Regions from separate parts of the Homo sapiens genome. Here region 1 is linked to region 2. Evidence: fine-mapped expression QTL. A gene starts in region 2. The other region holds a variant in brackets. All regions are shown on one strand. Distances are between the middles of the regions. Region 1 overlaps GPAM (glycerol-3-phosphate acyltransferase, mitochondrial). Region 2 holds the start of GPAM (glycerol-3-phosphate acyltransferase, mitochondrial).

The links. PIP is the estimated chance that this variant, and not a neighbour inherited with it, causes the effect. A credible set is the group of variants that fine-mapping cannot tell apart.
Region 1: its variant is the best candidate, but not a certain one, in a credible set for the expression of GPAM in whole blood (TOPMed, PIP 0.84).

Annotation. Positions count from the first base shown.
Region 1 is chr10:112,160,247-112,164,246 of GRCh38, forward strand. GPAM (glycerol-3-phosphate acyltransferase, mitochondrial) reads right to left here. Exons shown (of 22, transcript NM_001244949.2): 14 at 3,455-3,570; 15 at 1,421-1,491; 16 at 358-622. Among named protein-coding and RNA genes, the nearest start is that of GPAM, 22 kb to the right of the region's middle. The variant C/T (reference allele first, on the strand shown) is at 1,607.
Region 2 is chr10:112,181,785-112,186,298 of GRCh38, forward strand. GPAM (glycerol-3-phosphate acyltransferase, mitochondrial) reads right to left here and starts at 1,981. Exons shown (of 22, transcript NM_001244949.2): 1 at 1,909-1,981; 2 at 1,010-1,107; 3 at 1-29. RefSeq lists a silencer at 1,899-2,128.

The DNA of each region.
Region 1 (4,000 bases), 22 kb before region 2:
AAGACATAAGCCCCCTCTTCTCTCCTTCCTCTCTTTTCTCTTAATCACAAATGAGGCCCTCCACTCACTTTGCTGCTCTGTGTATGTCTCATCTCAGTTAGATTTTCAGCTCCTGGATAGCAAGACACTCTACCTCTCCTGAAAAATAAGGGTAATGCTATACAAACGGTAATTCAGTAACTACTCATTGTAAACAGTGATATAACAGGAGATTACATTTTCGTTTGAAAACTAAAATTATAGCCACATTCCCTCAAGCAAGGGGCTATCACCCAAATTAAAGCAGATACCACTATGTGTTTTAGGCCTTTTTATTTTCCATGAAAATTACTGAAAATATTTCAAGGTCTGACATACCTATGATGGCCTCCATGATAAAGACATGAAGTACCCCATTGCTGTAGAAGTTGAGTTCGAAGACTGATGGGACAGTTGTGCTGGGGGTGATAAAAAACTCATCGTTCCTGCTAGTGTGGGTGATTGTGACACAATTTCCCAGCAGCTGTATGGCATGCATTACTACATCTTCTGAATTTCCTGAGAACCCCAGGTCAAAATCACGAGCCAGGACTTCCTCTTTCATCACAAAGAAGTCTTCGACCAATGTGGAGAGATCAATTCCCTAAAGAAAGATGGAAACGGTATCATGATGGTGGAAAACCTACTTTCCAAAAAGCTGAGAGGCCAACATTCCAAGACTTTCTTCTTGCCTTGGCTTTCCTGCAGCTCACTGCTAGCACATAGAGAAGTAGGGCCAGAACACCAATGCAGAGCGAGTCAGAAAACTACTTAAAAAGCTGGTCCTCCAGGAATGTCAAGGTATTACACATGCTAGTGAACACTCTAGCCATGACACATGATATGCACACATAAGATCACAAGGGGGAGGAAAAAAGCCATCTGCAAGTAAGGAGTGCTTATTTTTTAGCAAAATTTCCTTCATTTTAAATATTTATCTGGCAAATATTTATTTGGTGCCTATATATATTGGCACTGTTTGGTGTTGAGAATATGACTGAACAAGACTGGTGTGGTCTCTTCCATCATAAAGCTCAGACAAATGTATTTTGGGAGGATAAAGGGTGGGTTCTAAAATGCCAGTCAATTCATTTGGAAAGCATTTGCTTTCAGAATATATACCACATGTTAATGAGTTAGACCTTATTTACATTAACAGTATTAATCAAGCAATAGCTTAGTACTATATATATTAAGCAGTCTGTTTTGTTTTGTTTTTAAATGTAGATTCTTCCTCCACCAAGTTGATAAGCTCCTTTGGGCAGGGTCCTCAGCTTATTTTACTGTTTACCTCATAGTACTAGCCATGAGTGGGCCAAATCTGCCCCTGAGTATGTATCTGAGCAGCTGACAAAACATTCTCCTGCTTCCTACTTAACTGCAGGTGACATTGCAGACATACCTGCCTGTGTCTGTAGAGGAGCAGGCAAGCCACAATGTGTGTGGACATAATGGCACAGGACTTGCTAGCAGCTGGAAGGCAAACACAAAGCTTTTTTTAGTTGCACTTTTTACAAACATAGCTGAACTTTTTTGAAATACCTAAATTTTAAACAGGAGTATTTAAAACTGTGAAAGTCTTCTATCA[C/T]ATTTCCCATAAGTGTGATTTACCAAAAGGAAGTTATAATACTACAGTGTTCTGGTATAATGGAACCTCATTAGAGATCACTATTCATCATACAACAGGCTAAGTAAGACAGGTCCAACTTCAATCCAGGCCAGTGGAATTTAGTTACTGAATGACGAAGAGACACTTTTATTGAAATATCAAGACCCAAAGTACAAGGCTGTTTTAGTTCTACGGGATCTCCCATTTCCATATTCCTTTACTTGCTCCCACCTACAGTCTATTATAACTACAACTCTACTTCACTCTTCTTGCTGGTATTCACCATATTAAAACGAAGGTGTAGTAGAAGGATAACAGCTGACTTGAAGTCAGAAAAATCTGGGCTCAAATCCTAATTTACTCACTAACTAACTTCATGACTTGGGGCAAATTACTTAAATTCCTGGCCTCACCTTCCTTGCTGATAAAATGAAAATCCTACCTAGCTCATTAGACCACATGAGAATAAAATGACTGGCCCGGCACAGGAGCCACAGTAATGGGTGCTCAGCATATTTGTATTTCCTCTTTCAACCTGACCCAGAGGTAAGAAGGAAGGGCACAGACACACATTTGAGAATGACTACAGTGCACACCCCTACACTGAATTTGCATAAAATTATAATTATATAAATCAAATCTGAGAACACCCATGGAATAATCTTAAATCACGATAACATTTGTGAGTTTTCTAAGATAACAATAAATTTAAGAATACTTCATTCACCACTGGTAACTGAAGTCGTCTCCAGTGTTAAAAAAAAGTACTCAGTACTATATGTATAGCTATTAAAAATATTTATAAAGAATTTTTAAATATGAATATTGTGTTATAAATGGAAAGCTGCACAATACAAAACTGTAAAAAATATTTTTAGAGACTACACAGCAACACCACTGGTTATTTGGGTAATGGGTTTTTGCTGTCTATTTCATCTTTATTTTCAAACTTTTTAACAATAAGGTATTATTTTTTGTATCCAGATTTTAAGCAGGATAGAGACATAATCAAATGTGCTTGAGAAAGAATCCTCTGACCCAAAGTCAAGCAGGAATAGGGGCCTCCAGAATGGGAGGAGCAAGGTGAGGGAGGAAGACCTCCCCAGTAGCATTGGCAGGGGGTGCGGAGAGTATCATCAGGGTCCTGGCCCAGAGAGCAGCAAGAAAGAAATCACAACTAGGCTGAGCACCAAAGAACCACTGTGCTGCCTTGGGATTTTAAAGCAGCCTCCACAACAGTACACAATTGTACAGCTTGGAACTTAAAGAAGACTGGTCCTGCAGTGAACTCACACTCCTCTCCTCTCTAGGTTCACTTTAATTATTTGTGTATAACCATCCCACTGACAAGAACATAAGCTCATTGAGTTCAGAACCATTAATTATTCATTTTGTATTCTCCACGGCTAAGGCAAAGCTTTATACAAGGCCACTCATATTTGCTGCATTACAAAAACTCATGGGGTCAAAGGAGAAATGGACATGCAACTATAAATCTAGACGTTGTACCACAAATTAGTTCAAGTAGTTCAAATAAAACACATTAATGAGCAACAGAGGCAACAAATCATTTTAATAATAACTATTTTTAAAAAGTACAACAACTACCACATGAACACCTACTAATTACCAGACACTGTATAAGATGTTTAACTCCAATTATCTCAAATCCTCACGGTATCACCTTCTTTCTAATAACTTACCTATCACCACCTGTGAATTAATAGAAGTGGAAACTAACCTCAGCAGATTCCAAAATCTGTATAGTTTGCACCATACCATGATGAATCTAAATTGTAGAATTAAAGAGTCTGGTATTCTACTTACTGAATAGAATATGCTCAGCCAGATTTGCAATCAACCTCCTTCGTAGGGATTCATCTGTTGCATTTCTGGACTCATTAATGGACGTGTCTCTACCTTCATCAGCAGCATCACTGGGTCTAAAAAGTGTTTCAAAAATCAACACACAACCGCACTCTTTTACAAGGCAAACCATGTGGAACTGATCTTTAAATGAATTAGATACTTTAAATTACTATATATTTTAAATTTAAACCACAAACAGATTATTTCTATGGCTTATTTTCCTCCATAATATACTACATTATGGCCTGGCCAAAACATGTTATTTAGTTATGACTAAATAGTCTGTTGATACACCACTTCCAAAACCACTGGCAGAAAGAATACATAATTCAAGATGCCTTATTTTAAAACATTTCTGAAAATTCAACACTTCCACATATTAAAGGAAAGGCTTCATATTCAATTTCTCTAAGTTAAAATTCAATTTGAATTCAATTTGAATTCCGAAAAATTCAAACAGCAAAATTCTTTCATATGGTTCACTTACATACAATATGCATAACC
Region 2 (4,514 bases):
GTCACAAAGTGTAATTCCCAAATCATGTGCTATAAAAAATAGGTACCATTTAAATTAACAAGGAATCGAGAGAGTAAATACTAGAACTCAAAATTCTGATTTCTACATTACTTTGCTCCACAATGGGATATCACATGAACTGACAGACTTCTACCATGTTGAGTCACAAGGTAAAAACTGACTTTGATGTGTTTATATGAACACAGTTAGGCTTCCCTGACTAGAAAAAAAAAAAATCAGCATTTGTATTCTAAGACTTCCTGAATATATAAGGATACAACATTGTATCCTTTGTATCCACACAAAATAGCTATGAATAGTATCCAAACAAAACATAGTATGCAAACAAAATAGTATCCAAACAAAATAGCTATGAATTGTATCCAAACAAAATAGCTATGAATAGTCATTTGCAAATGAAAATAAGAGCTTATTCTTATTTCATTTTTGTTAATTGAATAGTTCCTGGCAGAAGGAAGGCATGTTTATTTAATTAAGGCAATTAGGGCACCCCTTAAGTTCCCGTACTTAAATTAAGATCTTAATTTTCTTGTGATGTCCTAAAAGAACATTTTCACTTTTAATACAAAGGTAATACAAAGCTACAAAGCTCTGAAAGAAAAGCACACTATTTTGAAATATCTGATGTATAAGTTTTCATCCTTTTCGATAAGCTTTTTTCTACCCTAAGGAAAAAGATTCACTAAGAGTAAACTCCTAGAATAGATATTAATCCAAAATATAAAAACTTTCAAACATAATCTCTAGCCTCACATTATTTTTGCTTTTGGCTGTTTCTCACCTGGCCTAAAATTATTCCTTTAAAATCCTGAAAGGTCATGTCTAGATTAACAGTGTTCCTTTGGAAGGCATATTCCAATTTCTTTACAATCCCCACATGGGTTGGCTACAGTCACTGTTATTCTCGGCATAACCACCTATGTCCTTAAAAATTTAACATAAGTACAATCTAACATAACAGGCTAGGGGAGAGAATAAACCAATGCACCTGGGATGAAAGTTCTTCTGTTTCATAACATAAAACTTCAGGACTCAGCTATCAGTTTCGGGTGCAGAATGTCCATACAACAGGGGAGCCGCTGCTGCCTGAGAAAATGAAGTGAAGAGAGGATGAGGAGAGGACAAAGAGGCTCGTTTGTGCCAACAGGAGGTCCACGTTTTGCACTTCCTCCCTCCGCACAGTTCGCTCTAGGTCAAGGAGTAATAAAGAAGCAATATCCCAGAGGCACCAGCCAGCAGCATGCGCTGAGAGAAGCTGACTAGAGGATCTGAAAAGGACAGAGGCTGGAAGACCAGCTGTGAGGTTTAAATCTTCCACTGCTTACCATCTGTGTGATTTTTTATTACCATAAGTTGGTTAACTTCTATGCCTTAGTTTTCCCATCTGGAAAATGGGCAGAATGATAGCTCTTAACCTCCTGGATTGTTGAGAGGACGGAATAATATAAACAAAGGGTCTACCACAGTGTGTAACACACAGTGAGCGCTCAGTCCAATCAATGGTAACGCTGTCATTAATTATCTCCAGCATACCGGCTGCTCTCAGAGTACCCCTTACTGCCTCAATGTTCCCTAGGGACCCAGGCGGGCTGGCTGGCGGCGCCTCCGCGCGTGCAGATACTTAGGGGACTGAGTCCATAAGGACTCCTTCCAACCCAGGGGAACCCATGCCCCAGCGCAGTCTCCCCAGGAGAGATGAATCCTGATCCCCACCCCTGCACGAGCCCGACCGATTTCTCAGGGAGAAGACCGGAGCTCGGGTGTCAGGGAATAGGGGACACGACTGCCCCAGCAACTTGCAGGAGTCGCACCACCTCCATGCACTTGTCCCGGCGCTCCCGGCCCGAGTAGCCTCCCGCAGCCCACACCTGCCCTGGCAGTTCGCACCCTAGCAGCTCCAGCTTCGGCTGCTGCAGAAGCCCGCACTTCCAGTCCCGGCCAATGCCAGCTGCAGTGGCGCACCCTGATGACGCAACCGGCGCGTGGCATTGACGCGGGGCCGCCGGCTAGCCAGCGCCGGGGGCGGGGCCCGGCCTGCGAGCCTCAGGGAGCGTGAGCGGATCCGAGGGTGTAATGTGTGTACTCGAGTGTGCGTGCCTGTGTGTGGCTAAAGATAGTGTGTGAGCGCCTGGACAGATGGTTACCCTGCCTAGGCCATGCGTGTGTGAGTGTGTGTGGGTACCTCATTCTGCTTTGTGTAAATTCAGCTTATCCGGGAGCTTGTCCCTCTTCCAGGCTCTGTTGGGAATGTGCGCGTGGGCTATCAGGTTATGTGTGTGGTCTGACTTTTTATGAGATCTGTAAGACTATGTAGGATTTACTACGAATGGGAGAGGCAGGGATTGCAAATGGCCATGTTGTGTAATTTCTACCAAAGTGGCTGAGTGCCTTTTCCTTTAAGGAGGAAAATGAGATATGAAAAGAAGCAAATAAGGCTTGTAGTATAAAAAGCCTCAGTTAGGAGAAATAAGGGCTTTTTTCCCCCTTCGGACTATATGTTACACAGCATGGTGAATATAGTAAATAATAATGTATTATACAGTTCAAAATCGCTAAGAGTACATTTCAAAAGTTCTCACCATGAAAACTGAGAAGTATTTGAGGTGGATATGTCAATTAGCTTGATTCAGTTATTCCACATTGTATTCATAAGTCATAACATCGATTTGTACCCCCTAAATATATGCAACTATTTAGATAGTTTAAAATTTATAGCAATCCAGTCTAGCCAGCTAAGATGGAGCAACAGGACTGAATTTACTCTCCTGCCTAAAACAACTAAAAACAAAAACAAACAGGCATTTATAAGACAATGGCTTTTAAACGTTGTGCTGGACAGTGGTCCTTGAGGAGGGAAAACAAATGAGGTGAGCCCTATGATTGCCTTGATTTACTAACTAGAGGGAGCAGCCAAAAAGAGCTAGGCAGACTCCCTGAGTTGAAGAGATAGAACTGGGAGAGCAGGGAGGCCAAAGCAGCTGGAACTGTGAGTTGTATATCAGAAAGGAGAAAGCTACACAGAGAAAGAAGGAGCTGTGGAGATCTACAACAGATCTCACTCCAGTCTTCCGCTGATTAGAGCATGTGTGTGAGGAAGCTACCTAAGGGCAGGAAATAATCATGTATGAAGAAAAGAGAGAGCAATTACTAAAGTTTGCACAGGGTAGGAAATTAATTCTGCTCCCACAAGGCAGAGTAGAAAGATACCCAGTGATTATACAGGACCAGAAATAGTGCCTGATCCTGGCACCCCGACTGGAAAACCTCATAATTCACAACTCAAATGGTTTTGCTTCAGTAGTGGGGCAAAATTAGCTCTAATGTAAAAGCTACTCTGATTCTATCTTAGAAATCTTAAAAGCCAGCCACCAAAGGATTAAACCGTTTTTGAGAACAAAGTGTCCCAGAGCAAAGCACAAGAATATTTACAGGAAATTAAAAATAACCAACACCTAACAAGGTAAAATTTGCAACATCTGGAATCCAAACAGAATTATCAGGCATGCGAAAAGAAGCAGGAAATGAGAAAAAAAAATCAACCAATTGAAATCATCCCAGAAATGACAGAGATGATAAAATAAGAGAACAAGGACATTAAGAAAGTAATTATGACTGTATTCAATGTTTTCAACAAGTAGAAAAAATAAACTGAGCATGGGAAGTAGAGATGTGAAAAATCTTTAAAAAAAAAAAAGACACAAACCAAACATCTAGGAGATAATAAAACCACATCTAAGATTTTTAACACCCTAACACACACACACAGACACACACACACACACACACACACACACACACACACACACACACAGGATTAATAGGTTAGACATTACTAAAAAAGAAACAGTAAAAAACCTGACGGGAGGCTGAGGCAGGAGAATGGCGTGAACCCAGGAGGCAGAGCTTGCAGTGAGCCAAGATTGTGCCACTGCACTCCAGCTTGGGTGACAGAGCGAGACTCTGTCTCAAAAACAAAAACAAACAAACAAAAAAAAACTTGAAAGCATTGTGATAGAAACTATCCAAAATGAAACACTAAGGGAAGAAAAATACTGAAAGTAAAAGTAGAGTATCAGTGAGCCTAGTATACATGCAATTGTAGTCCCTGAAGAAAATGAGAAATATGAGGTGAGAATAGATTAGGGAGGACAGAAAAAAGCATTTGAAAGAATAATTGATGAAAACTTTCCAAATTTGACCAAAACTATAAACTTATAAACCCAAAAAGCTCAACAAACTCAGTAGAAACATGAAGAAAACCATACCAAGAAACATCACAATCAAAATGCCTAAAGCCACTGATAAAGAGAAAATCTTAAAAGCTATCAGAGAGAAAAAAAAAGACATTACTGTACAGAGGAACAAAGATAAGAATGACAGCAGATTTCACATCAGAAAAATGCAAACCAGAAGATGGTGGAGCAGCATCTGAAGTACTGAATGAAGAACCTATCAATCAAGAGTTCTTTTTATATTAATATATGGTATGTACA